7 linked regions of the Homo sapiens genome follow. The protein of the gene in region 6 interacts with the protein of the main gene of each other region in a pairwise test. Each region holds a gene or a part of one and is shown on either strand. Other genes may lie near its edges. The genes, in order: SCG3, NADK, PSMC6, CCDC106, CADPS, SDCBP and TNFAIP8.

Evidence for each region.
Region 1: the proteins of SDCBP (region 6) and SCG3 interact in binary tests that used the Homo sapiens proteins (3 or more experiments, as listed by UniProt).
Region 2: the proteins of SDCBP (region 6) and NADK interact in binary tests that used the Homo sapiens proteins (3 or more experiments, as listed by UniProt).
Region 3: the proteins of SDCBP (region 6) and PSMC6 interact in binary tests that used the Homo sapiens proteins (3 or more experiments, as listed by UniProt).
Region 4: the proteins of SDCBP (region 6) and CCDC106 interact in binary tests that used the Homo sapiens proteins (3 or more experiments, as listed by UniProt).
Region 5: the proteins of SDCBP (region 6) and CADPS interact in binary tests that used the Homo sapiens proteins (3 or more experiments, as listed by UniProt).
Region 7: the proteins of SDCBP (region 6) and TNFAIP8 interact in binary tests that used the Homo sapiens proteins (3 or more experiments, as listed by UniProt).

What each region holds. Positions count from the first base shown.
Region 1 is NC_000015.10:51,687,825-51,691,981, forward strand, and holds part of SCG3 (secretogranin-3 isoform 1 precursor), read left to right. Parts: intron 1-435; coding exon 436-578; intron 579-1,394; coding exon 1,395-1,544; intron 1,545-4,157. UniProt on the Homo sapiens protein: Member of the granin protein family that regulates the biogenesis of secretory granules. Acts as a sorting receptor for intragranular proteins including chromogranin A/CHGA. May also play a role in angiogenesis.
Region 2 is NC_000001.11:1,761,174-1,765,330, reverse strand, and holds part of NADK (NAD kinase), read left to right. Parts: coding exon 1-103; intron 104-3,295; coding exon 3,296-3,379; exon of another isoform or gene 3,380-3,438; coding exon of another isoform or gene 3,439-3,440; intron 3,441-4,157.
Region 3 is NC_000014.9:52,709,842-52,713,998, reverse strand, and holds part of PSMC6 (26S proteasome regulatory subunit 10B), read right to left. Parts: exon of another isoform or gene 2,899-4,157; coding exon 2,831-2,898; intron 2,590-2,830; coding exon 2,475-2,589; intron 119-2,474; coding exon 31-118; intron 1-30. UniProt on the Homo sapiens protein: Component of the 26S proteasome, a multiprotein complex involved in the ATP-dependent degradation of ubiquitinated proteins.
Region 4 is NC_000019.10:55,646,446-55,651,260, reverse strand, and holds the start of CCDC106 (coiled-coil domain-containing protein 106), read right to left. Parts: upstream 3,050-4,815; 5' UTR 2,215-3,049; coding exon 2,184-2,214; intron 2,057-2,183; coding exon 1,952-2,056; intron 1,854-1,951; coding exon 1,677-1,853; intron 1-1,676. UniProt on the Homo sapiens protein: Promotes the degradation of p53/TP53 protein and inhibits its transactivity.
Region 5 is NC_000003.12:62,756,917-62,760,416, reverse strand, and holds part of CADPS (calcium-dependent secretion activator 1), read left to right. Parts: intron 1-3,500.
Region 6 is NC_000008.11:58,566,761-58,570,917, reverse strand, and holds part of SDCBP (syntenin-1), read right to left. Parts: intron 32-4,157; coding exon 1-31. UniProt on the Homo sapiens protein: Multifunctional adapter protein involved in diverse array of functions including trafficking of transmembrane proteins, neuro and immunomodulation, exosome biogenesis, and tumorigenesis.
Region 7 is NC_000005.10:119,386,540-119,390,696, reverse strand, and holds part of TNFAIP8 (tumor necrosis factor alpha-induced protein 8), read right to left. Parts: intron 2,954-4,157; exon of another isoform or gene 2,945-2,953; coding exon of another isoform or gene 2,905-2,944; intron 1-2,904. UniProt on the Homo sapiens protein: Acts as a negative mediator of apoptosis and may play a role in tumor progression.

The sequences.
Region 1 (4,157 bases), on a different chromosome or scaffold from region 6:
TAGTACATGTGGGGATATTACCAAACTATCTATTCCCTGTATGGAACTGGAATATCAAATCATACAATATATAGAAGGGTACATTGAATAATATGACATGCTATATAAATATGGCATACTATGTTAATAAAAAGTATAATATGGTTTGTATTATTGGTGATAACAATAAATGGAGACTACTTTTCTGTTGCCTTTAGCTTTTCCTTCCTCTTATAGTCACCTAAGAAAGTTTCAGAATGTCCATTATCATACTAAGTTTTTAACATGAAGACCAATTTTATTTCAAACCGAGGGTTTCTGTGGACCGAGAACCACCATAAATACATTTCAAACATATCTGAATATACAAAAGCGAAGTACAGATTATAAGTATAATATGATGCATGAAATAGATCTATGATCACTATGGTGTGAAGTTGTGGTCGTTCTGTCTAGATGATCCAGATGGTCTTCATCAACTAGACGGGACTCCTTTAACCGCTGAAGACATTGTCCATAAAATCGCTGCCAGGATTTATGAAGAAAATGACAGAGCCGTGTTTGACAAGATTGTTTCTAAACTACTTAATCTCGGCCTTGTAAGTCATTTGGTAGGAAATAAACCAAATTCCTAGTGCAGTTTAGAGTATGCCAAGAAGCCAAGTCACTTGCCTCAAGTAGCCAAGTGTTTATAATGTGTCTTCCTTCTACTAGGACCCGTAGGTTTTAAGGACAAGCAAAGCACCATTCTTTTTTTTCTAGGAGTTTATCATCCATCAGAAGAACTAGGCAAGTAGACACACGCCCAAAATGCCAGCTGCTTAAAAACCATAAGAGCCAGAGAATAGCTTATATCCAACTGGCAGTAAGGAAAGGCTTCAGAGGAAGAGGCGTATGAAGGAAGCTTAGAGGGATGGTTAGGATATAACCAGCAGAGGTAAAAGACATGTATGTGACAAAAAAAGAAATAACATGAGCAAAAGCATGTGATGTGTATTTTTGAAACTCCAGGTGATCTAATTTGAATCCACCTCAGCTTGGCTCTTCTGCCCTGACCTGGCCCTGACAGGCTTTATTAAGATGCTAATTTTGTAGGATGTCAAAGGTTATCTGACTATGACCCAAAGCTGTGGAGGGGCAATGCTCAGGGTGTTTCTCAAAATATGTGGTCCATGGGTTTCAACAGATAGAACTAACAGCTTGCATGGTGGGCCCGAAGATACTTCTTCCAGGAGTGCTGAGCAATCCCTATAACAGCCAGCATGTGGTGCAGGCGTAAGTGAGGGCTGTCTGAAAGATGGTTCAGAAGATTCCTCTTTAAAAAATACATGTTTGACTACAGTTTAGTCCACATTATTTTTTAATAACAAGACTGGGAATATAGCAGTTATATATGTTTTGCCTTTTTATGATAGATCACAGAAAGCCAAGCACATACACTGGAAGATGAAGTAGCAGAGGTTTTACAAAAATTAATCTCAAAGGAAGCCAACAATTATGAGGAGGATCCCAATAAGCCCACAAGCTGGACTGAGAATCAGGCTGGAAAAATACCAGAGAAAGTGGTATGTATGTGTATATATGCATATGCATGGGGGTGTGTGTGTGTGTGTGTGTGTGTGTGTGTGTACTTCTATCTGTATAATAATTGCCTTACTTGATACCAAAGAAGATTTGAGGTATGTGGCATTTTTAGCCCATTTATATTCAGGCCAGACATGTTGGCTCAAACCTGTAATCCCAGCACTTTGAGAGGCTGAGGTGGGAGTTGAGACCAGGAGTTCAAGACTAGACCTGGCAACATAATGAGACCCCCATCTCTACAAATAAAAATAATTAGCTGGGTGTGGTGGCACAAGCTTATAGTCTCAGCTACTCAGGAGGCTGAGAGGAAGATCGCCTGAGGCCAGGTGTTTGAGGTTGCAGTGAACTATGATTGCACCACTGCATACCGGTCTGGGTGACAGAGTGAGACCCTGTCTCAAAAAATTAATTAATTAATTAATTTAAAAATATGTATATACATAAAATACCAAAAAGTTAAAAGATATAAATGATCTCTACTCTGAAAATAATGTAAAGATTATGTTATATTCTATTATTTGGTAAAGATTACATCTTATACCCCACAGTAAAATAATACATAATAATATGTGAAGTAACAATATCACATAATAACATCTGTGTGTACAGTCCCAGTGAACTGCAAGCAAACATCTCACAGTTCTTTTGGTATCCAACATCTGTTCACAGCAGATGTCATCATCTGTGCCCAATCCCCCCACAAAGAAGTGGGTTGACTAGATCTTCTGCTACACCAGCTTTTGTGTTCCCCAGAGCTAGCTGCCTAATGCTGCCTCTCTGTTCTTGGCAATGCTCTTCCACCTGCTCCTTCCCCTTTTCATTGGTTTAGATGCCTATTTACCCAGGCTAATTTCATCCTTCCTTCCCTTTGTTGGACTCCTTGCGTCTTCATTTTTTCCTTAGCACCAACCAAGCTGTTGAGATCTTTCTCCCCACCTTGAATTCTCTTTAAAACTTTAGATGAAACTGACCATAAGGGGATATCAAATTCCTCATCTGTCCTTTGATTTTCCTCTGTAAAGCACCCAGACCCATGGCTCCTCATCTCCTCCAGCATCTTATCTCAAATACAAAGACTATAGAGGCTGATGGTTCTGTTTTAGAGAGGAGAGAAAATAGAAATTGGGTCTGGATTTCTTTTTTTTTTTTACTGGATAGCCTAAAAACTTTCCTCTGCTCTCCTTACTTCCAATCCTCACCAGCTGCCATCTTTTAAAGCAGCTTTTGAAGATTCACCCACTCAAAAAAAAAGTTCTAGATTTATCAAAAAAAAAAACCCTTATGACTTTTGCTCAAGCTTACCAGTCTGAGCTAAAATGGACACAGCTATTTCCATAATTCTTCATTCCCATTACATACTCCTATTCACCTATCTCTAAAATGTTCATATGCTTGACCTGTTTACTCATGTTACCTGAATGCATCAATGCAAATAAAACACAAATGAAATATTATTTCAACAAATATTTATTGAATACTAACTCTGTACCAAGCACTGGAAATACCATGCCTATTTAAAAAGACATAATCCCTGACTCATGAAGCTCAAAGTCTAGTGGAAGAGGTAGATCATGTTTAAATCATCATGTATTTTCATTACAATTGCATTAAGTGCTCTGAGGAAAGAAACATGGTTCTATGAGACCTCAAAAAAGGAGGCTGACCTGGACTTAGGCTCAGGAAATGCTTCCCTAAGGAAGTAACTTGAGCTGAGAACCGAAGATCAAATAGGAGTTAACTTGTGAACATGAGAGGCAGCACATAGAGAAGGATGTGTGGAGTATCCAAGCAACTGAAACAAGCACAGTGTTGCTGGCACAGAAAGAAAGAGCAAAAAGAGAAGAGACTGGGGAGGTGGACCCAGGCCAGACCATGCAGCGCCTTATGAGCCATGGATGGACTCTGATCTTTATTGTAAGAACCATGAGAATTTTCTGGTCCCCTGAAGAATTTTAAGCAAAGGAGTTACATGATCAGATTGTTAAAAAGATAACTCTGGCTATAATGTGGAAACGCAGTATTGGGCATAGATTTGGGGAGGGTGATGTTGCAGTTAGCAGGTGAGAAATGAAGGCTGCTTGGACTAGAGTGGCATAGTGGAGGGAGAAATGTGCAAATTTGGGATAAATTTTGAAAGTGGGGCCAACAAGGCTACTGATGGATTGGATGGGGGAAAAGGAAGAAGAGGCAAGAAAGGCTGTTAAATTTCTATCTAGTTCACTGAATGGAGAATGAACCATTTACTAAGATGCAAGTCACTGAACAAAAACCAGGTCTGAGAGAAAGATTTTGTACACTCATCCAGACAGCACTTAAACTTTACCCAAAAATTCCCAGGTGTGACTGCTCTGCTAGGGATAGACATTCTAACAGGCTTTCCTGTATCCTGGCACCAGCCCTCCTGGTGGATTCTGTGAACTCAAAGCTTCCCTCTTCATTAAAAGGCAGTTTTTCCTGGGGAGACTCATGATAATTTATGGAGGTAAACATGGCCAGAGAAAGAGCCCAGAAATTCCCGTTTTTCCCCTGAGCAGGAGCTGGGGTCTTCAGGGGGTTTTCCCTGAGGTAGAGCACCTTTCCCTGAGCTTCAATGA
Region 2 (4,157 bases), on a different chromosome or scaffold from region 6:
GCCACGGCGATGAGACCTGGAGTTACAACCACCCCATCCGGGGCCGGGCCAAGTCTCGCAGCCTGTCTGCCTCGCCCGCCCTGGGGAGCACCAAGGAGTTCAGGTACAACTGGGAGGGATGGTTCCTCTTTTTTTTCTCGTCTGATTTCATAATATTCTTTCTTAAAACGATTATGAAGAATTCTCCTGAGTAGTCTGCGTCGATGCATCCGGAAGGTGAGGCTGGGTCCTTGCCCAGGTGAAGCTGTGCCCTTGAAGGGGGATCCTGGCCCATGGACACCTGCCTGGCGCACGTTCCCAGGTGCCAGCACAGGCACAGGGTGCCACCGTGTTTCTCTATCTGTCTGTATCAGCACAGAACCATCTAACTGGCGCCTACGCTGACCCTTGATGTTAGACTGAAGCGCACTTGGAGAGGAAACTTTTTTTTGAGACTGAGTCTCGCTCTGTCCCCCAAGCTGGAGTGCAGTGGCGCAATCTTGGCTCACTGCAACCTCCGCCTCCCAGGTTCAAGTGATTCTCCTGCCTCATCCTCCCAAGAAGCTGGGATTACAGGCGTGCACCACCATGCCCGGCTAATTTTTGTATTTTTGTAGAGACGGGGTTTCACCATGTTGGCCAGGCTGGTCTTGAACCCCTGACGTCAGGTGATCTGCCCGTCTCAGCCTCCCAAAGTGCTGGGATTACCGGTGCAAGCCACTGTGCCTGGCCTGGAAACATTTGCTCTACAGAAGTCACTGGGGTGTGAGGGGACATCCCTCTTGGCTCTGCTTGTTTTGAGAGGCGAAGGCTGGGGGGTTCTGCACTGTGAGCAGGGCTGGTGGAGGCAGAGTTATGAGCGTGGCCTTGGGCGGGCCCAGCCCTCTCACATGTTGGGCAAGTGGCTCCCTCCTGTGCCAAGAGTGCCCACAGCGCTCACCCTTGCACAATGCTGCTTGGGCAACAGCGCCCCGGGCTTTGCATGACGGTGGCCGCACAAGCACAGCTGTGATGGTGCCTGGGGATGGTGCTCTCGGTTCTGGTGATGGTAAATGTGGTGAGTTTTAGGTGGAAGCTTGCCAGAGCCGGCGCTGCCTAACAAGGATCACGACTATCAAATGCAAGGGGGGCTTTTTGGTGAAAAGTAGTCTTAGAAAGCATGTTGTCTTACCCAGTGAGATGGGAGAGCCTGTAGCGCCTCTGACGTGGTGGCAGCCGTGGAGAAACAGGCTACTCCCACGTTTTCTGTCTACAGAGTCGCTGCCTGAGCCAGGAGGCTACGAGCGCTGGTGGCTGCCTTCATCCCGCAGGCACCACGTCACCACTCAGCCTTTCTCAGATGCCTCGTTGCCTCGTTGTCAGTGGGGGTCGTTGTCCTGTACCTCCAGGCCACCCCAGCGCAGTGACTGCGTGAACAGAATTGCTTTGGGGTTTTATTTTTTTTTCCTGTGGGTTCTTTGGCATAATGCACCATTTCTGTTGCATTCTGAACCTGATGACAGCAGCCCTGGGTCAGAGGTCGCCTCCATAGTGAGTGACAGGCGCCTTCAGGGTGAGGTGGGGGAGGAGGTAGCCAAATACGCCCAAGCATAGCCTGTCCTTGGGAAGGAAACATTAAATCCCAACACCCACTTCGAGAAACATTGTTTTCCGCAATAATCTTTTCAGTTCGTAAGTAAGTAAAATTCTTTTGTAATGTACTTCGTTTTCTTCTTCTTTTTTTTTTTTTTTTTGAGATGGAGTCTTGCTCTGTCGCCCAGGCTGGAGTGCAGTGGTGTGATCTAGGCTCACTGCAAGCTCTGCCTCCCGAGTTCAAGTGATTCTCCTGCCTCAGCCTCCTGAGTAGCTGGGATTACAGGCATATGCCACCACGCCTGTCTAATTTTTGTATTTTTAGTAGAGATGGGATTTCACCATGTTGGCCAGGCTGGTCTCGAACACCTGACTTGAGGTGATCCGCCCACCTCAGCCTCCCAAAGTGCTGGGATTACAGGCGTGAGCCACAACGCCCGGCTAATTTTTTGTATTTTTGTGTAGAGACAGGGTTTCACCGTGTTAGCCAGGATGGTCTCAATCTCCTGCCTCGTGATCCGCCTGCCTTGGCCTCCCAAAGTGCTGGGATTACAGGCGTGAGTCACTGCACCCGGCCTGTACTTACCAATTTTTAAAAGGCTGAGGTAAACAAGTCCGTGACCACTGATGGCCACGCCTGTGTCACCTGTGGAGCAGCCCTCAGGGCACCACGGCTCTCCTGGGGTTGTCTGGCCCTGCGAGGCAGCGGAAGGCCGTTCTTCTGCATTGGGACTTGAGGATTTTGTTGGGCCGTTGCCTGGCCAGCTGTGTGCAAGTTTTCTGAGTTTGTGAAGGGACTGGGAGGCTCCCGGGCACCTAGGACGAGGGCAGCCTCAGTGCTGGACCCTGAGGAGCACAGCGGTCCTGACAGCATTCTCCCCAGGACGCGTGCGGCTGCCACAGCCCCTGGCTGGGTGATTTAACTGTGACCTGGCCATGTTTAAATCACTAGGAAAGTTGTTGAGCCGTTCATCTGGCGTCTTTTATTCATTCATTCATTCATTCATTCATTCATTCATTTTGAGACAGAGTTTCACTTTTTTCAGCCAGGCTGGAGTACAGTGGCTCGATCTCGGCTCACTGCAACCACCACCTCCTGGGTTCAAGCAGTTCTCTTGCCTCAGCCTCCTGAGTAGCTCGGACTGCAGGCACACGCCACCAGGCCTGGCTAATTTTTCTTTTTTTAGTAAGGATGGGGGTTTCACCATGTTGGCCAGGCTGGTCTCAAACTCCTGACCTCACGTGATCCACCCACCTCAGCCTCCTGAAGTGCTGAGATTACAAGTGTGAGCCACTGCGCCCGGCCTACGTCTTTTTTATTGACATGAGTTCAGAGTGAACATTTGTGCTAGAATTTTAATCTAGACGATTTAGAGATGAGATGTTGTCTCAGGTTTTGAGTCCCAAATGCAGATCTAGAGAGGGGTCCTGGAGACACTGAGGAATTCTGATCCCAGGCTGGCCCTGGCCCTGGCATTTTCCTTGTTTGGGCTGAAGCTCTCCCCGGCTTGGGTCATGATCTGAGCGGCGCGTGGGCATGCGTGCTCCTCACAGGTGCCGCTCCAGTGCAGCCATGGACCTGGGCAGAACCTTCCAAGGGCTATTGTGTGGCTGCTGGGCAGATGGAGTTGGCATCTTTCAAATTGCATGTATGCCTTACCGTGTAACCTCCTCTGTATCTGTGTCTGTCACTGCATGTCTGGTTTCAGGCCCTGGTGGCTCTGACACTGCCCTCTCCCCACAGGAGGACACGCTCTCTTCATGGGCCATGCCCGGTGACCACTTTTGGACCAAAGGCCTGTGTGCTGCAGAACCCCCAGACCATCATGTGAGTGCTGGGGCCCCAGGACGGGGGGTTCTTGGAAGGGAGAGAACCCCTAGACCATCATGTGAGTGCCGGGGGCCATGGGATGGGGGAGTCCTCGGGATGTGTGTGGAGTTGTGGGATCGCTGTGTTGAGGAAGATTCTAGCACTTCATGTGAGAAGTACATGTTTAGGTCATTTAAACAAAAAGCCACATGGGCGTCCTCCCTGAACCCCCTGAGTGCAGGCATCCGAGCGGGGGCTCCCCAGCTGTGGCTTTTCCAGTGGCTTTGAGAAAGTGGACGGCAGGCGAGCCGGGGCCTGGAGACCGGGTCACAGCCCGTGGGTGTGGCGGCTTCCACATGAGATCCTCAGGGCTGCCTTTTTGTTTCTTTAAGAGTGAGTGAGAATTCTGGGGTGGGTTGCGTTTGCTATTTGATGGTTCAGTTTGTCAACACATTCTGCCTGGAGGCCCGTCATAGTGTCATGGGAAAAACGCAACAGTGATCGATCTGATATCTGTGTTTTATGTGTAAAGAATTATAATCCAGGCTGGGCGCAGTGGCTCACACCTGCAGTCCCAGCACTGTGGGAGTCCGAAGCAGGCAGATCACTTGGGCCCAGGAGTTTGAGACCAGCCCGGGCAACATGGTGAAAGCCCATCCCTACAAAAAACACAAAAATTGGTCAGCTGCGGTGGCTCACACCTGTAATCCCAGCACTTTGGGAGGCCAAGGGGGGCGGATCACGAGGTCAGGAGTTCAAGACCAGCCTGGCCAATATGGTGAAACCCCATCTCTAC
Region 3 (4,157 bases), on a different chromosome or scaffold from region 6:
TTGGTGGAGTAGAAATAATTCAATACCAACCTGGTGGTCCATATAACAAACAGCCTTTTGGAGGTATTATTCCTACACGCTGAAATAACTCTGGGTTTGTAAGAGGTAATTCTATCACCTAGAAAAGAAGTTAAATCTTTCTTAAAAAGTTAGTCAAGATTTTTAATGTACTTTCAAATACTCTAAGTCAAATATCACCTTAGTTAGGTGTACACATCATAATTCTTAATAGACCTAGACTTCCATGCTAGGTAAAACCATTTATATTAAGAGGTTTTGCTCCAGGTAGATTTAAGATCTCTTAAATCTAAAAAATTTCAAATAATGTTTTTTAAATAAACCACACACTTGATTGGGGTGATGGTTACACAGATATATAACTTGTCCAAACATATTTGAAATGTACACTTAAGAATCTACATTTTTTTAATGTAATTATACCTCAATGAAAAATTATACCACAAAAAAATCAGTTAAGTCAAATGAACATATAAACAAAAAACACAACTCAAAAGATCTATACTAGTTTGCATTTGAAAATACAACACAAAATAATTCTAAAATGGGGGATGGATTTGACAACATACCAAGAGAAAAGGTATATACAATTTTTATCTGTTGGCATTTTGCCACGGCAGCTTTTAAAGAACAGTATGTTCTGCTCTCAAGACTGATTCAAGGAAGAAAAGTAGAGACTAGAGAAATTGAAGATCTGAAAGTCCAATTTAAATTACTTATAGTACCAGTAACTTAAGAGAGAAATTTCTTTTTTTTTGAGACAGAGTCTGTTGCCCAGGCTGGAGTGCAATGGCATGATCTTGGCTCATTGCAACCTCTGCCTCCCGGGTACAAGAGATTCTCCTGTCTCAGCCTCCTGAGTAGCTGGGACTACAGGCGCCACCACCACACCTGGCTAATTTTTGTACTTTTAGAAGAGATGGGGTTTCACTGTATTGGCAGGCTGGTCTTGAACTCCTGACCTCAGATGATCCACCCACCTCAGCCTCCCAGAGTGCTGGGATTACAGGCGTGAGCCACCATGCCTGACCGAGAGAGAAATTTCTATTGAATAGTTGTGTTGGGCTAGGTGCGGTGGCTCACGCCTGTAAATCCCAACACTTTGGGAGGCCAAGGCTGGAGGATGGCTTGAGTTCAGGAGTTCGAGAAGAGCCTGGACAACATGGTGAAACCCCATCTCTACAAAAAATAAAAAAATTAGTCACATGTGGTGGCGCATGCCTTCAGCTACTTGGGAGGGTGAGGTGAGAGGATGACTTCAGCCTGGGAGGTAGAGGTTGCAGTGAGCTGAGACTGCACCACTGCATTCCAGCCTGGGCAAAAGAACCAGACCCTGTCTCAAAAGAAAAAAAAAAGTTGTGTCCATATGTGCATAAAGCGTGACTGGGAAAAGCCAGAAGTGAGAGAAATCAATACTCTAAAGTGTAAAGTATCTGCAGACAGTAAAGGATACTGCATGTATACATGGGATTCTTTCTGCTCCTATGGCTAATGCAGCAAATCACTGTTGAAAGCAAGTTTTCACCGTTTTATGAAGCACCTGTTCTTCCTCTGTTGCCCTTTCATTAATACAGGTGAGAACTGCCTTTTTTTTTTACACTTAGACCAGTGCTTCCTCAAGTATTGTCAAAGAAAAATTTGGTTTCATAATCACTTGGAATGCTTGTTTAAATGCTAATTCCTGTGCCTACCCCCAATCTAGTCCATCAAAACCACTCAGAGGGCCTAGTAATGTGTATTTTTAATAAGTGTTCCAAAAAAAATTAATGTACTGAAGTATGAGAACTGGCTTAAAGCTTAAATCAGATTGTGTAAGACATTCCAATTATTCCCATTAATTCCTAAATATTCACAGCCTAATTTAGGATAAAATCCATAGGACAATGTAATTTGCTTTACAGATAACAGTTAAGAAGCTGTCTGTGCTATGAAGTAAGGCAATCCTGATTTGACTGTTCACCTAAAAGCTTACAAGATTTAAGACAATCCTAAAGCCAGTGGTTTTCTGGAATGGCAGCAAACAGCTTTAACAAAATAAAATATTTAAGGAACAGGTACCCTACTCTTCTGTAAGAGTGGGAAGCTAGTATTAATGAGGTTATGGAAAAAACTCATCACACACATTATCCAAATATGCTCTGACCCAAGTAACTTATTATGATAATCAAAACCACAGGATATCAGATTACATCAATTATTTTTAGCTTTTTCTCCGTTCCTTTGCCACAAAAAGAGCAGGATTTTTCTAACACCAAATTATCTCCAAATAAAAAAAAACAGTAATTTTCACAGCTAGAAATTCAGTGCTATTCTTCTTAGCAAGAATAGTAAATACATAATATTCTTAACTACCATTTAGACAAAAAGTACTTTTTCATCCTGTTTCTCCTGTTAAGAATCCTAAAACTAGTAGTATTTATTAGCTAAGTTCAGAGAACAAGGCACACAGTACCAACCTCTCTTAATTCCCGGATCTGTTCTGATAGCCCTCCAATCTCAGAATAAGAAACATTCCCAGGGTCCTCATGAGACATGTTATAAACCAGTGGATCCACCTCTCTCGGCAAATATCTAGAATGAAAAGGTATGTATTTTTCTTTTGAAAGATATATTTTCTCTTAGCCTACAGATAGCATATAAATAACTTGCTCAAGCAAGCACCTGTAGCTGATCTCATAAAGATGTGCTTAATTAGAAACTAGTAAAAGGGAAAAAGTGCCAAAATATTCAGTGATCTCAAGAAGCATATATCTCAGATAAAAACCACCCTTTGTGAAAATAAAAGGTGAACTAAATAGAATAAGAAACCCACCTCATGATAGTTAGTGTAGTCATATCCAAAGCAACTCTTGTTCCTGGCTTCAGCTTACTTTTGTCAAGCTAGTTTTGTAAAACAAAAGATATTACATCAACACTTAAAAACGGAATAACACTCTAACGAGAGTTTAATATTTAGAAGCCAAACACTCATTTTTACCCTCCAGAGAGAACACAAATATCAGATTATAAACTCTATGCTAACAAAATGGCTTATAAAATAAGTAATTCAAAGTGATTTCCACCTGCTCCTTAAAAGCATGCCCCTTTGTGTAATCTCAGTGTAAAATGTGAAATGACTAACACACAAAGCTTGAGGCAGCAATGGTACAGTGACTTTGGGAATTGCTACCAAAGCATTTATAGAAAAATCCCTTAGTGAACATTTTAGGGAAAGGAAAGGGAAGCATTTTAAAGGTGTGCTCATCAGATTTATTTTGAAATGTACAGCTTCTGGGAAGAATGTGTTAAATGCTCATGAGAGTAGAGAAAAATGCACGGTTTCCCCTTAGAGATTTTTATTAAAATGCTTTAAATTTAAAGCCCCAAAACCCAGCAACCATCACTCATGCCTTTGCTACATGACAGGCACATGCTGAACACATTACACATTAGGTTGAATCATACTAAATAATTTCTTGGCTTATCTGGCTAAAATTAGAATCTACTAGATCTGCCTCACTCTCAGGATGTTGTTACTTTTCAAAGATAAAGTTACTTTTTTTTTTGAGATGGAGTACGGAGTCTCACTCTGTCGCCCAGGCTGGAGTGCAGTGGCGCCATCTTGGCTCACAGCAACCTCTGCCTCCCTGGTTTAGGCAATTCTCCTGCCTCAGCCTCAAGTAGCTGGGATTACAGGTGTGTGCCACCATGCCCGGCTAATTTTTTTTTGTATTTTTTAGTAAAGACGGGGTTTCACCATGTTGGTCAGGCTGGTCTTGATCTCCTGACCTCGTGATCTGCCCACCTCAGCCTCCCAAAGTGCTGGGATTACAGGCATGAGCCACCCCGCCCGACCCAAGTTACTTTTTAATAGTTTAAAAAACTGCGTGCCAATACAATTTCGGAATCATATAAATTACTGACCACTTGTCACAGGATTTTACAAAGAGCTTCAAATTTAGGAAGATAGGCAAAACACTAGGATTAATATAACAATTAAGGAAAAAACGGCTAAGAAGTGAGGTTACTTGAAAAAATAAGAGGAGAAATCAATATGAAGCTATTTCAATGTTTACATCTATAGGAAATACAGGCTGAGTATTCTTAATCTGAAAATCCAAAATGCTCCACAATGTGAAATTTTTTGAATGCTGACATGA
Region 4 (4,815 bases), on a different chromosome or scaffold from region 6:
ATGAACCAAGGGACCAGACATCCCATCACAGGTCCCGGGACTGAGAGAGGCTGCAGTCCCCGAACTGGATCCCCCAACCTGGGCTGGTCCCCTAAAGAGACAGAGAGACAAGGAGTACGGTAGAGACGCTGGTGGCTGAGTAGAGCCAGTTGGGGTCTGTGGGAGGTGGTAATGGGTGGAGCATTTTCTCAGAGGCCTGGGTTGGCAAGAGGTCTTACGGAGGCAGCCGACCAGGGGCCTCAGGACCCCTGTGACTATGCGCGGTTCCCATAGGGGAGGGAGAAATTTCTGGGGACTGGGCGGGACCTCTGGAGAGTAGCCTCTGGAAACCCAGGAGGCAGGCAAGGCCTTGGCTGGAGTCGGGGGGTCAGACCGAGAGAAATCAGGGGCCCTGGGTCCAGCAGGCTGGGTCCCACCTCCATCTAGACAGAGGGAGCCGGCAGGCGGAGGCCCAGACACAGATTCCTCTAGAAGGCGGGTTAGGGGAGGGCTCTGGTGCCAGGGTCCCCACTGGGAAAGTGCCGAAGCCGCAGGGCCAAACTGTCTGTGCAAAGGAGTCAGTCACCCAGGATGGAACCATCAGTGAGAGGAGACAGTGGCAGGCCCAAGGGCAGCCAGAGGTGGTTTGTTCCCGAGCAGAGGGAAAGCCAGATCCCCAGATGCTGGGCTTCCAGTAACAGAGACACCACAAGACCATAGCCCCCTTGCCTAGGATTTTTGGGGAAAGGGTTGAATTCACAAAGAGAGATGTGGGAGCTTTTGAGGGGTCTTCCCAGCCAAGGAGCTAGCAAGGCTGAGATGAGGGTAGGTGGGGTAGAGTGTGGGTTCTCCAGGCCATGGGCTGTCGGGCAAACGGCCTGACCATCCGGGGAAGAGGATGGGGCTGGGGTCCAAAATGTATTAAACAGGGCACAGGGTCCCACCAGTCAAGAGAAGACGCTAGCTGTGAACTGGCTGGGGCTGGGTGCTGCTGTGGGAGCTATCTGGGCTGCTTCTGGCCATGAATTATAGCAGAGCAAGGTATGTGGGTGGGGACTGCCCAGGAATCAGGCAGGGTTTGAGGGACAGCACCTGCTGGGGTCACCACCCAAAAAGGCCCACAAAGGAAGGGACTTAATGTCTTTGATGGGGAAGGAGTGCTCATTAACCAAGGATGGGACAGGGTGGGTGGGAAGATGGCCCCTGGTGTCACAGAGGGGAGGGGGGGACAGGAGGAGGCCGGATGGCTGGACTCTTGGATCTTGGAGAAGACAGGGACGGGAGGAGGAGCAGGGGCCCCCTGAGGAAACCCAAAGAACTAGGGTGGGCCTCTTGGCCAAAGAGATGAAGGAAGGTCCCCCTAGGAGTCAGAAGAGAGGGGCTCTCAGGTGCCAGGGTCCCTGAAGTCACCATGGGCCAAGGAAGCAGATGGCAGGGCACTGGAGGCTGATGGGATTTGGGGAGCTGACGGAGAAGGCAGGAGGACGGGCCCCAGTAGACAGTTCATGGGGATGAGGCCCTGGAATCAAGTGAGGAGGCAGCTGGGCCTGGGGGCCCAAAACAGGCAGGGGACTAGCAGATAGGGCCAACATGGCAGGTCCCACCCAGCCAGCCAAACAGTGGAGCCTTGAGTCTGGGTGAGCGGGTACCCAGTAGCGGGACAGGGAGGCATGTGGATCAGAGCACCCCACACACACCTGCCTCCATCCGAGCAGAAGAGATGAATTTGTCCAGCTGGCACCGCAGGAAGTCCCTCTCTTCCTCCAGGTCCTCGATGCGCTTCTGCAGCCAGGAGTTCCTCTCCAGAGCCATGTGCAGCTGGGTCTTGACGCTGTTCATCAGAGCCAGGGCGGAGGACGCAGCCTCCGGAGGCTCTAGGGACACAGCGAGGGTGGGGGGACCAGGTCACACCCTGGGACTCAGGGCTTGGCTTCCCAGCTGACTCCAGTCCCTCCACACCCCCTCAGCTCACCCTCGAAGTTTCTCCGAGAGGGGCTCAGACTGTAAAAGATCTGTGGGTCTAGGTGGGGTGCCTCATCGAAGGGAATGGAGATCTCGAAGGTCTCATCGTCCTTCACTGGAGAGGAGAGGCCCCGGGTTACCCCAGAGAATTCCCCGGGCCTCTCAGGCCACCCCCCAACCACGGCAGCCTGGAGCCGACCGCACTGGGACCCAGGGTAGGGAAGGGGACCCAGCTTCCTCACTTGTCCGCCTCCGACTGCTCCGGTCATTCATGGCGCGGCTTCCTACGGACCCCAGCAGCCGAGGGCCTCAGGGGCACTGGACAGAAACGGCAGCCACAAATGGAGAGACGCAGATGGACTGGAGGGTCCATCCTGGGGGAGGTGAAGTGAGACAGGAGGGACCTTCTGGCCTGGACCCCTGGTCTGAGGGAGGAGGGAGCCTGGACCCCAGGACTGAGGCAAAACGCGCCTGGGCTTCAAACTCCTGGGCTCCTGGAGTCAGGGGCAGGGGGCCCAGCCGCCTAGGTCCTGGGGGAGAAGTGAGCTGGGGACGTGGGCTCCTGGGTATCGAAGGAAAAGGAAGCTGAAGCCCTAAATTGCTGGGTGCCCCAAGGGGTCGCCTGACCAGGGACACCTAGCCTGAAGGGGAAGGACCCTCTCTCATCGCGGGCCACTGCCAGGCCTAAGGAAGAGGCAGGTGCAGGGGGAAACTGCCCCAACTTCCCAGGGTAGGAGGAGGTCCAGCCCGTGCGCGCTGCCTCCTCTACCTTCGGGGCCCCCACACCCCTCCCCCGCACTCGCGTGGGCGGGCGGACCGTCCCCCGGTGGTGGGGGCTGGGCGCGTGCGCAGTACGGGGAAAGGTCACGCGTGGGGGTGCGCCCCCCCCGCCCCCGCCCTTTGTCCCGCGGGTGGGAGGGGGAGCGGTCGTGGAACGATTCCAGCGGGAACATGCACTAGGGCGGGGGTGCAAACGCGGCCACCATCCCCCGCCCGCGGGTGCCCGGGGTCCGAGGGGCCGAGGCCCCCCGCGCTCACCCACCCGCTCGCGGAATCCGGCTCGGGGACCGACGGCGGCGGCGCCCATGCCCGGCGCCGGGGAGCGTCTGCAAAGTGTCACGGGGAGCCGAGGGAAGCGCCCACCCACCCGCGAACAGGCGGGGCGGCAGGGGAGCGTGTCGTGGAACTGAGCGACGGAACGGGCAGGGACGCGGGGACTCGCCCAGTCGGGCCAGGCTAGCGCCCCTCGTTGAAGAGTCCCCGGGTCCAGGTGAGGCCCGCCGTTTGCGGCAGAAGCAGAGGGTCTGCACTTGCGCGATAGCCCCTTACAGCACTCCCCCGCCCTCCCCGAAGCTCAGGCAGGGAACATCACGAAATTCCCATCCTGGAGAGCTGGCGAGTCTCCGGGGGTCCCCGGATTGGGTGGCGGTGTGCCCAATGGGCCCAGAAGGCAGGAGAGTGTTTGAGACACCGAGAAAGTTGGAGCGAAAGGAGAATCTACTTTTAACGCTCTCTCAGGAACTAGCCAGCGCGGACCCCTCAGAGCTCCCCTACCTCCTACAGCCAGACCCCAAGGTTCTCAGGGATGTGGGGGCCAAAATCGGGGGAGTTACCCCTCTCCCGGAAAATGAGGGCCAGGAACACGCCACCCCCATCCCCATGTTGGTAATTAAGAGCTGGCTTTGGAGCAAAGCTAGATTCCAGTCCTGACTGTTCCTGCTCCTCCCCAGCCTGTTAACTCACCTGCAAAATGGGGAAATTACAAGCCCTTCTAAATTTATTGTGAGGATGCAGTGATGCGACACACAGAAGCTCAGCCCAGCACCTGGCCATCGTCAGGGCTGAAGAGAGGAGCGCTGCTGGTATTATTTGAGGTCAGATGGTGGGGTATGATGGCAGCCTCTGGGAGGCTCTTTCCCACTCTGGGGAGTATGAACGGAAGATTTGTTCTTCCTCCCAAAAAAACAGGTCGGAAGAGCAAATGAGGCCTAGCACAGTGCCTGGCACAAAATAGGCAAGAAAAATGAATGAATAAGCAGATGTTTATTAAGCTTCAGGCTCAGCTCCACCTGCCTCTCCTGTTCACCAGAAGCATCCAAGCTCTGGACTGTGGCCAGCCCTTATAAGAGCAAGGTCTTAACCCGATGGAGGGAGAATCTAAATGTCTGCACCGCCTGCAAAGCTGTGACCATGATCCTCCCCTCCCCACTTTACAGATTAACTGCAGCCTGGTCCAAAAATTCCAGGGGGAGCCATCTGCCCTAGATTGGTCTTTTCCAAACTACAGGTTCATGGGTGGAGAATTCAATAGAATAGGATGAAATCAGCAGTTTAAAAAAATATTTAGCCGGGCGTGGTGGTGCACACCTGTAATCCCAGCTACTCAGGAGGCTGAGGCAGGAGAATCGCTTAAACCGGGGAGGTGGAGGTTGCAGTGAGCCGAGATCGCACCACGCTCCAGCCTGGGCGACACAGCGAGACTCCGTCTCAAATAGTAATAATAATAGTTGATGGAAAAAAAAATGCACAAACTAAAGCTAACTATGGTAAAGAAATTTTTGTGGGCCGGGCGCAGTGGCTCACGCCTGTAATCCCAACACTTTGGGAGGCAGAGGGGGGCGGATCACGAGGTCAGGAGATCGAGACCATCCTGGCTAACACAGTGAAACCCTGTCTCTACTAAAAATACAAAAAATTAGACAGGCATGGTGGCGGGCGCCTGTAGTCCCACCTACTCAGGAGGCTGAGGCAGGAGAATGGCATGAACTCGGGAGGCGGAGCTTGCAGTGAGCCGAGATTGCGCCACTGCACTCCAGCCTGGGCGACAGAGCAAGACTCCGTCTCAAAAGAAAAAAAAAAAAAAAACTTTTGTTT
Region 5 (3,500 bases), on a different chromosome or scaffold from region 6:
CTCTAAATAAATTAAAAATAAAAATTGTGTCCGACAGAGGTGGGTTGAGTTCTAGTCCTGTTACACACTGACTCTGGGACCTCAGCTATGTCTGAGCCTTAGTTGCTTCATCTTTAATAGGACCTTCCTTGCCTAATTGCTCTCAAGACTAAATGAGAATATATATACCTGGACAGTTCCATTATTAATATATTAAGGTTAGAATATATTAATATATTAAGGTTAGAAATGAGCATGGTGGTATGGTGTCCATATGCTGCATAGAAATAGAAGAAGAGAGTTGAAAGTTGATAGAATCAATTCACTCCCTGGGCATGGAGGAAGGGAGGTGCAAGATGGAGCAGGGGAAAAGGGCATAGAAAAGAAAAGGGAAAGTACTTTTGCTCCTAATCTAGCACCACCTACCACAAGGTCATGGCCCAAGATCTGCTTCTGAAACTTTGCCCAGAATCCTTTACTTTTTGGTGAAGAAGATTTTTAAGATTTGAAAATACATTTTATTTTAGAAATGAAAATGCACCTTGCCTCAAAGAAGGTAAAATTTGTATTTTTCCAGGTAGAAAAGATGTGTTTCAAATGACCGTGAAAGTAAAACATGCCCACTATAAAAATAAAACAGACAATGTAGAAAAATCTCTGCATTTACATGGTTAAAAAATACTTGCAATCCCATCATCCTAGATAACCAAAATTAAACTTTGGTTTCTATCTTTCCAGGTACTTTCAATGTATCTATGCATGTCAAGATAACTATTTGGCTTGCATATTAAGGTGGGAAATTACCACAAACTATTAAGGACCCACTTCTTTTATTTAACACAGTTGTTTTCAGTCTCCTTCCTACCTTTCCAAAGGTCACACAAATGGCATACTCTCATCAGTAAACTGTCTTATTTCCTATGGTATTCTAAATCCAGAGCCATGTTCCTATCCTCCAATCCCACCTCACCCCTGCCATTGGAAGGCTCTGGTCCATTATAACCATATATCATGGACATCTTTGGATGGTAATGAAAAAATATATATCTTTTTTCATGGCTGCATGATATTCTATTTAAAAATAACAGCTAACTTGTATTACATTCTTAGCCGAATAGTAGGCAACAGGCTAACCAACTTGCAGGCATAATATCACTGAATCAGGATTCAGGGATCACCAAAATCCTACAAAGGAAGGTTGTTATAACTCCCATCTTAAAGGTGAGGAAATTAAAGCCCAGGAAGATTAAGTAACTTGCTCAGGTGGCAAAGCTAGCAAGCAACAGAGCCAGGATTTGAACCCAGGTGTTCTAATACCAGGGCCCATCCTCCTAACCATGATGTCTACCCCTTTCATTATTTATGTGCCCATTTATTAATAGCAACGAGGTGTGTGTTTCTTGCAAACCTTACTTACTCCAACATCTAGATGTTTTTCTTATTTATATTGAAAGGATATGCTTTTTCAGAACAGGAATGAATCTGCTGTGGCTTCTCAGCTTATCAGCTAGCAAATGGGAGCTAGGCCAACCTCATCTGTAATGTGAACAGTCACTAAGTACTGATGTGTTTGTATGTTTCTAAAATGACCTTGAGGTTGCTTGGCTCTGGTGATGGAGGGAAGGACTGATGGATGAGGTCGAGTTGCTGAATTGACTGTCCTTCACAATTCCATATTTATTTGTTTATCTTCCATCTCTCATTATGACCTGTCTGGAAGTTGGCAGAAAAGCAGGGAGGATTTATGGATGTGCCCAGATAGAACTGGGCTTGGGGTTAAAGTCTCTTGTGGCAGCCACTAAAAAGCAAAAACAGAAACAAACACGGATACAAAATACAGACAGAGCTCCCAGCACAATTGAGTTTGAATAGTTGTTTTAGAGACACACAGGCACATCAGTACTTAGTGTTTGTATTCATTATAGGGTGAGGCTGGCCCAGGCCCCACTTCCTCTTTGTCAGACTGAGAAGCCAAGACAGATGATGTGCCTGTAGAAATAGTTTCCTGCTGCCACCTTCTCTCCTCATGGCTGTCTTGTCTCCATTGGGCAATTCATCTTTACTGTCTCCCCAGTCTTTGGCCTCTTTCCTCCATGTTCTTATCATTCCACTCATCTCTCCTCTTTCTGGGATCTGGCAGTTGTATCTTAACACAGGACAGATAGATCCCTCCACTTTTCAAAGTCTTCTCAGTTTGATCCTCAGCAAAGAAGAAAGGCTGGATTCCTTCATTGTTTACCATGAAGGAGAGTGAGACTGATGGAGGTTAGGTGACTTGTCTTCCACTGGTAATTCAGAAGTATTTATTGAGTAGCTACTATGTACAAAGGAAGGGGCTAGTGAAGCAGATGCTATGCCCAGGATTCAGGGTTCACCTGATATGGTTTGGCTTTGTCCCCACTCAAATCTCATCTTGAATTGTAGCTCCCATAATTCCCACGTGTCATGGGGGTACCCAGTGAGAGGTAATTGAATCATGGGAGCAGGTCTTTCCCATGCTGTTCTCTTGATAGTGAATAAGTCTCAAGATATCTGATGGTTTTATAAAGGCGAGTTCCCATGCACATGCTCTCTTGCCTGCTGCCATGCCACATAAGACGTGCCTTTGCTCCTCCCTTGACTTCCACCATGATTGTGAGGCCTCCCCAGCCATGTGGAACTGTGAATCCATTAAATCTCTTTCCTTCACAAATTACCCAGTCTTGGGTATGTCTTTATTAGCTGCGTGAGAACAGACTAATACATCACTCAACCAGTTACACCAGCTGGGACCCAAGTGCCAACATCTTTATTTCTTACCCCTTGTTATCAGGCCCCATGGAAAATCTAGCCTAAGTCTCTTGTTTTAAGAGACCAATATACCGTGTGCTGGTTTCCCGTTGACCTTCTCGCCCCAATCCAGACATAGTCTCGCTCCATATTTTTCCTGCTAGAGGAGTCTGCTTTGCTCTTATAGTTCATTCACTCATTCCACAAATATTTACTGAGCACCAGCTACATGCCAGGCACTGTCTCAGGCACTAAGAAGCAGTAATAGAAACAAACAACGACTACCCTGCCTCCCTGGAACTTATAGTCTAGCTGGAGATCAGATATTTACCAAACAGTCACAAAAACAGTGGCAGATGGCAGCTGTGGAAGGGCTTTAGGAAAAAAGAATCTGGGGCTGAGAGCTTATAACTGAGGCCCATTTCGGGTTTGTGGGATACTAATGTGCATAGATGTAGAGGAGAATATAGCTTCATTGTTGATTGAATGTTTTCAAGTCACCCCTTATGTTTATTAGCACTGACAACAAAGGCTTAACCCCTTAGTGTCCCCACTGCCATCACACTCACCCGGTCTCGTACAAGCACCTCTCAACTGGCCTCCCTGCCTATTTTCTTGGCTCCCTTCATCAGTCTCTTTTCCACATTAAAGCCAAAGAATGTGAACTGGTTTGTGCCGTGTCCCAGCTTAAAACTTTCAATGGCTTTCCAATGCCCTTAAAATGAAGACCAACAACCCTAATCCCCTCCTCC
Region 6 (4,157 bases):
TGGCAGGGTTTGCAGAAAAAGCAGTTTGAGCCTGAAAAAGAAAAGAAGAAAATTCTAACAATATGCTATACTTACTTTATATTCTTATATAATTTATAAGCTAAATCCAGTACTTCCAAAAAGAAACTAAAACAATGAAGATTTATGTAAGAAAGTTTAATTTCAAACACATCAGCAATACATTTTCCAAAGGAAATCTGCAAATCAAAACTATATTTGATATTCTAAATACTTTTAAGGCTATCACAAAAAAATTGTAGAAGTACCATTCTACATGTCTTATAACCAGCACTTCATAGTGCTGCCACAATAAATTAATATTTTCAAAGTGCATTCTAAAATGAATAAATTTTACATTTTCATTATTCTTTTACTAATTAGTCCAAGTAAAAATATTTTATTTGCATAAGAAAAAACCTTACCCATATTCATATAAAAGTCACATATCAGAAAAACACCTAAAAAATTAATACTAAGCATGTCCCACTGAAATCATCTTTATCTTCATTGCAGCAAGTATAGGAAGGGGTTTATGCTAAATACTTTTAAAATATCAGAAATTATGAAAATAGCACAGTTTATCACTGACATAAATCGATGATGACAAGGTAATGTAATTTGTAACTGTTAAACAAACTTGCCAAAATCACTCTGACACACTCTGACACTCTAGCATTTATCAATGCTACTCATGCTCAAGTATCCTCTTCTCAGGGCTGTCTTGATGGCCTACATCATATGAAGTATCTCACTGATGGAAATACTTTATCCTTTACAATTAGATCTGACTTTCTGAAATAGCTATATGTCATTAGAGACAAGTTTGGTAATAAGTTGTATGACCAATCTCTACCAACTTTTTACTTTATTGGAAATGTATCATTTTAAAAATGAAGTTCATAGTAGTATCTCAACCTAGCCCTAAAATCAATGTCAAGAGTATTCCCAAAGATGCTTGGAGATATGAAAGCTTAGTTTAAATAAGTAAAGCCTATGAAAGCTTTGAATGGTACTAAAATTATATGTTCTGATATACTTGTTGAGTCATCCTTTAATATTTATTATTTCATAATTTGTTAAACATTCTAGATTTAAACAAAATACAGCATGAAAATCTTTATAATTATAAATAACAATCCACAAATTGAACATGTGTTGAACTTTGAAAGTTCTTTCACCACCGATTAGCTAAAAGGAGCTAGTGGCTTGTTATATTACTTCTTGAATCATGTCTAACAAAAAAAATACTGTGCGGCACTGGGAAAAAAAAAAGAACTATAAAGACATGAAAAGACATGGAGGAAACTTAAGTGGATATTACTAAGTGAAAGAAGCCAATCTCAAAAGGCTACATACTTTATGATTCCAACTATACGACATTTTGAAAAATGCAAAATTGTGGAGATAATAAAATATTAGGCCAGGCACAGTGGCTGAGGCCTTTAATCCCAGCACTTTGGGAAGCTGAAGCTGGAGAGTTGCTTGAGGCCTGGAGTTCAAGACCAGCCTGGGCAACATAGGAAAACCCTGCCTATGCAAAAAATTGTTTTGGCCAGGCACAGTGGCTCATGCCTGTAATCCCAGCACTTTGGTAGGCTGAGGTGGGCAGATCACCTGAAGTCAGGAGTTCAACTGACCAACATGGCATGTTGTCATGTTTGTCATGGCCAACATGGCAAAACCCTGTCTCTAGTAAACATACAAAAATTAGCCGGGCATGGTGGTGGATGCCTGTTAATTCCAGCTACCCGGGAGGCTGAGGCAGGGAGAATTGCTTGAACCCAGGAGGAGGAGGTTGCAGTGAGCCAAGATCGCACCACTGCACTCCAGCCTGGTGACAGAGCCAGACTCCGTTTTGGGGGAAAAAAAAATTTTCTTTTTAAACTAGCTAGGTGTGGTGGTGCATGCCTGTAGTCCCAGCTACTTAGAAGGCTGTGGCAGGAGGATGGACGCTGCAGTGAACCATGACTGTGCCACTGTACTCCAGCCTGGGCAACAGAGCGACATCCTGACGCTAAAGAAAACACAAAAGCAAAAGCAAATTATTGGTTGCCAGGAGTTTCTAGAAGGGAAGGAAGAACAGGCATTAAAGAATTTTTCGAGCAGTGAACCTATTCTGTCTAATGCTACAATGGTATACAGTCATGTGCTGCCTGTTCTGGTCAATGATGAACCACATATACAATAGTGGTCCCATGAGATTATAAAAGAGCTAAAAAATTCCTACTGTCTAGTGACATCATAGCTGCCGTCACACAGAACAACTCATTACTTTGTGGTGATGGTGGTGTAAATAAGCTTACTGCACTGCCAGTCATATATAAAAAAGTATAGCATCTACAATTATGCATGGTACATAATACTTGATAATAATAAATGACTATGTTACTCATTTATGTATTTCCTGTGTTATACCCTTTAGAGTATATCCTTCTACTTACAAAAAAAGTTAACTGTAAAACAGTCTCAGGCAGGTCCTTCAGGAGGTATTCCAGAAGGCACTATTACCATTGGAAATGACAACTCCATGCATGTTACTGCCTCTGAAGACCTTTCAGTGGGATGATGTGGAGGTGGAAGACAGTGATATTGATGATCCTGACCCTGTGCAGGCCTAGGCTAATGTGAGTGTGTGTCTCAGTTTTTAACAAACTTACAAGCGATTTTTAAAAACTAAAAATTTAAAAAATAGGAAAAAAGCTTATAGAATCAGGATATAAAGAAAGAAAATATTTTATACAGCTGTACAATGTTTGTGTTTTAAACTATGTTATTACAAGAGTCAGAAAGTTAAAAAATTAAAGTTACAGGAAGCTAAGGTTAATTTATAATTCGAGAAAGAAAAATTTTTAAATAAATTTAGTGCAGCCCAAGTATAGAGTATTGATAAAGTCTACAGCAGTATACAATAATGTCCTAGGCCTCACATTCACTCACCGCTCACTCACTGACTTACCCAGCGCAACTTCTAGTCCTGGAAGCTCCATTCATGGTAAGTGCCTTATACAGATGTACCATTTTAAATCTTTTACATTGTATTTTTACCATACCTTTTCTGTGTTTAGATACACAAATACTATTGTGTAACAATTGCCTACAGTATTCAGTACAGTAACATGCAGTATTACTGTATCATACAGGTGGGATCATACAGGTTTGTAGCATAGGAACAACAGACTATACCATACTGCCTAGATGTGTAGTAGGCTATGCCATCTACATTTGTGGAAGTACACTCTATAATGTTTGCACGACAAAACTGTCTAATGAGGCATTTCTCAGAACATATCCGTCTTTAAGCAACACATGACTATATACACGTCACTATACATTTGTCAAAATCCACAGAACATATAACACCAACAGTGAACCCTAATGTGATGTAATGTAAATATGTAGACTTCAGGTGATATTAATGAGCCAGATGTACTGCTCTGGTGCAGATGCTGATACTGGGGGAGGTTGTGCATGTGTGAGGACAGAAGGTATACTGTACTTTCTGATCAATTTTGTTGTGAATCTAAAATTGCTCTAAAACACAGCTTATTAATTTAAAATACTTCTCCTTTGTATGTAGTTATGAATTTCTGTTCTTTCATTGCTATTGTTTTTAATCCAAGGAATACTGAAGAATACATATAGAAAGCTCCCTGCAAAGTTAAATTTAATTATGTTATTTGCAGTAAAAATGAAACAAAAGGATGTAACCCAATTTTAAGTACTGTAAACCATTAAATGTAGCTACTTATTTCAAACTTACTTTGAAATGTGACACTACTAAAAAAAGGGGTTGGGGTGCCCCAAGGAGCATGCCAGGGCCTATTGTTTCTGCCATTAACAGAAAGGATGTGGAAAAAACATGCTTGTAGCGTCACTGCTGCCAAATTCTGCCCACCATATTAGGAAACTGATAAGCTCTGGTTCTGTATATCATTATTTATTAAAAGCTTACTTTGCATAAGTAGAGGAAACCACAGGCTCTTGTCAGGATTTGGAATGGAGAGAAAAAGGTCTAGGGACTGTATGATGCTAAAAGCCACAGCCTAGTGGCTACTGCAGAATAGTTTACAAAATATGAATGGTTGGTTCATTGCTGTAATTTAGCTTTGCTGTGGTGTTAAAGGCCAGCAGATGAGAAAATGAATACTACCTTCCTT
Region 7 (4,157 bases), on a different chromosome or scaffold from region 6:
AGTGCCATACATCCACTCAAAGAATGTCTTGATTGAATAAGAAAGGGTCCCCTCACAAATGTCGAAATTTAAACTTCTGAAACATGAACTGAAACTGCAGAAGAACTAAAATATATTTTGAAAAAGAGAAGGAAAGTGAAAATGTGTGAGAAACAGCCAACTTTATGGAGAAGTTTCCATCATTTAATGTTTTATGTTTTTATCATTTAAGCAGAAATCTGTTTCTATTCCTATTCTTCAATGATTTGCAAAAGAGTATAAAGATTAATTCACACTAAAGAATTTATGTCAAAAGAAATGGCATCCATGTAGCTAACAGTATCACATTAAAACCAGGGACCATATTTCATCTTAGAACTCCTGATATAGACCTCAAAAAAAATCAATAAACTTGATTTATATAGGGATACCCAACCATTTTCAGCTACTCAGCAGATAACCAGGATTTCAGTAATATATTACATATAAAGTTGAAATGTTATTGTGTTTTTTTTTAATGTTTTAGAACATGGCACAGTCTACAAATATCTTACCTGGGATTTACTACAAGTCTATCAGTTGGACATACTTTATGTTGTGAAATATTGAAACCAGAGGGAGAGGTATTCATAAGATTTCTCCTTTATCCAAGACTGGACTTTCATGTTTACACCTCTTCTCAGCTACTTTTCTGATTAAATCTCAATATCCCATTTAACTTCAAACATGGAAAACAAAAACTCTATGATACAGCACTTCAACTTCCTGCAAGAGAGTGTGTAACAGGCAAATCTACTGCCAACTAAGCAAGATCATTCCCCATTTACTGGTAATCAAGTATGAATCAAGATAGAGAAGTTGATCTCTGAGGCTTTCATATTTATCCTAGAGGAACTTCAAACCCCGCTCCAGAAACACAGCAGCTGTGTCACACTTTCCTTTTATTCTTTGGGTTATTCCAGTGAAGTCGTCTTTTTAAATGAGGTTGAAGCTCCTTGTTCCCCTCCACCATCTGAAGCTCTTTCTCCCCCTCCACCAAGAAGACATGCATGAGTAGATTTATTTTCCAGCATTAGAGAAAGTTTTTTTGAAGCCAACTGGGGCTTGTGGCTGAGAGTCGCTGGCCAGGGATGTGTGGTCTGTGCTCATGAAGTTTGTTTCTTTTTCTTGCAAATTAACTGCTGTTAGCCATTCCTGTGCAGGCTCATTTGTCAGTTCCACATGCTCTACCAGATCCCTTAAAAGTCTGGTGTATCTCAGAGCTAGTCCTGGATCAAGTTTTTCTCCTTCAGTCTATCCTCACCCCTGTGTGATCTCATCCACTGCCACAGCTTCAGATACCACCCATGTGCCAATGACTCCCATAGCCATAACTCAGCCCTGACCTCTTTTCTGGACTCATTTTGTAAGTGCATTCAAGATTTTTCTTTCCTTGACTATTTTGCAGGCATCTCAAATTTACCATATGCAAAACTGATCTTTGATTCTCTCCTGCCTCCCTACTAAGTGCTCCTCTTTCACTCTTTATGATCTCAATTAATAGCATCCCTTCCAACCTTTTGCTCAATCAAATCAGAGACCTGGGGATCATCCACCATACCATTCTCTCCCTCACCCAGTCCATTATTAAGTTCTTTCCATTCCACCTTCCTCCTGCATTTCTCTGAATTCTATCCATTTCCCTCCATCTCCACGGACAGCAGCCTAGTCCAAACCCCTTTCTATCTCTTTTCACATATCAGCCAGAGTTTCAAGAAATGAAATTTGCAAATGGGGCCGGGCGCAGTGGCTCACACCTGTAATCCCAGCACTTTAGGAGGATAAGGTGGGAGGATCACTTGAGCCCAGGACTTTGAGACCAGCCTGGGCAACATAGCAAGACCCTGTCTCTACAAAAAAAACTCAAAAAAAAAAAAAAATAGCTGGGCATGTAGTCCTATTTGCTCAGGGGGCTGAGGTGGGAGGACTGCCCGAGCCCAGGAGTTCAAGGCTACAGAGCTGCAGTGAGCTATAATCATGCCACTGTACTCCAGCCTGGGCGACACAGCAAGGCCCTGTCTCAGAAAAGAAAAGAAAAGAAAAGAAAAAAAAAGATGCTTCATGTAAGTTCTTTGCTAACTATCACACCTCCTTGTTCCTTAAATCCTCTTCATTTGCCTACATTTTTATTGTCTGCCTCTCCCTACTAGGATTTAAACTCTGAGAGCAAAGATTCTGTGTATCATGTTCACTGTGTCAACTTGCAGGCCTAGAGAGTGGCTGGTCCAGAAGCAGCAATCAATTTCCCCTATCTCATCCACAATATACTCAAATACTTTTCTATGAAAACATGTTGGCCTGTAAAACGAGAGTTGTAAATACATTAGTGGGTGTTTTTGTTTGTTGTATTAAAAGGTAGAAAAACAGGTATTTGTTTTACCTCACTAAACATGTGGTTTTTCTTCCCTCTAAGTGCGCTCCAGAGTATGATTTCTCTTACTGTCATCAACCAGTTCTTTTAAAGAGGAGAGATTTGTTGTGCATAATGGGAAAACATCCAAGGACAATAATGCAAATATTTAGAGTAAAAGCAAGGTGTAGTTCTGACTTGAACTGTAGCAGGAGATTAAACACAGGCCCACCTCTACTTCTGGCTGGATCTATGTTTAGACATGTGCCAGAGGGATACCTAAGGCATGTCCTGGGAAGCAACTAAGATGTAAACAGGAGATGTTCCCCAAGGAGAAAGTGCTGAAAATATTCATTCAGTTTTTTGCCTCTTAAGATCAATTCACTTGTGTTTGGAAACAGACATGTAAATTGTTCATTAATGAAGAATAATGCTGTATTTAAAAAAAAATACAAAGCATTACCACCACATTAAAACTGTTTAAGATTATTTTCTAGAAATAGGGTGTAAATGTTATTTTACATTACTTATCTTACCTCCCTCCCTCTCTGTCTCTGTATCTCCTCCCTTGGCCATTTCAGCAACATTTGCTGTAAGGCAAAGTGATATTTAGGGAATTCTGGCTTTAGCATCAAAATTATAAAGTTAGAGATAAATATGGTTAAAATATACTGACCCAAATATTCAAGAAAAAATATGCTCAGAAGGAAAAAAAAGTCCTTTGTTATTAATACTTAGTTTTATGAAAATTAACAAAAATGCCCCATAACATAACTACTCCCACTGAGAATTTTCTAATAAAGTACTCAAATCATTTTCTTTACAGTCTTACCAGTAAATACATAATTTTTTCCCCTCAAATCTATTATACTTGGGACTCTTTAACAGTGATGACAACAGATGTACATACATTGCAAATTCTTGCCTAGTTAAAACTCGATCCAGGTTTCCAATATTAGGAAGGATAGAAAAGATAATAATTTGGAAAGCATGTCTGGCTGTTGTCTGTTAATAAAAGTTCTTTAAATAAATATATAAAACCTTAGCTCTCTTGTATCTAAATAATTCTAAATCTAATGGGACTTAGTAAAAAGTCAGCTTTGGTGATAAGAAAGTGGCCAGAACAAACAACGAACCCTGTCATAAGAAGTCAGCAGGCGAAGAGTTGACCTCCCTACATGGAGATTTGGCAGTGCTCCAGAGAAAAGCAATGAACGCTCGGAGTAGCTAGTGATGTGTCAGTGTCACCAGCTTTCATACTCAAAATCCCAAAGTCAGAAATTCAACAGCATAGAGAAGAAACAACAGAGGGAAAGAGAGAGGGAGAAGGAAGGAAGGAAGGAAAGAGAGGGAGGGAGGGAGGGAGGGAGACCCAGTAGAAGCAGCACAGATATGAACTCTAAAGGGGGCTGCCCTGGAAGGGTCAGAAGCAACGACCATGGCAGCAAGCTGGAGGCAATCTTATCAACTAGAGAGAGAAGACAAGTGCCAGGCACCTTAATCCCAAAATTGGCCTTATGCCACACAGATGGAGGCTGTCACACAGAACATAGTCTTGGGAGAATCAATACATCTGAAGTCCTTAACCTGATACGGAATGCACATTTTGGGGTATATGCACATCCCCCCAAGTGGTTAAGAACCAGTGACAGGCACCATTACAGTGGCAAGCTAAGTCATTCACTCTGTTTCTTATACTCCAGAAAAATACATGCTAACCTTAAAAGGCAACATAGTAAAGAAGACATGTCAGAGAAAATGGTGACTTTGAAATACTCCTCCCCCGCAA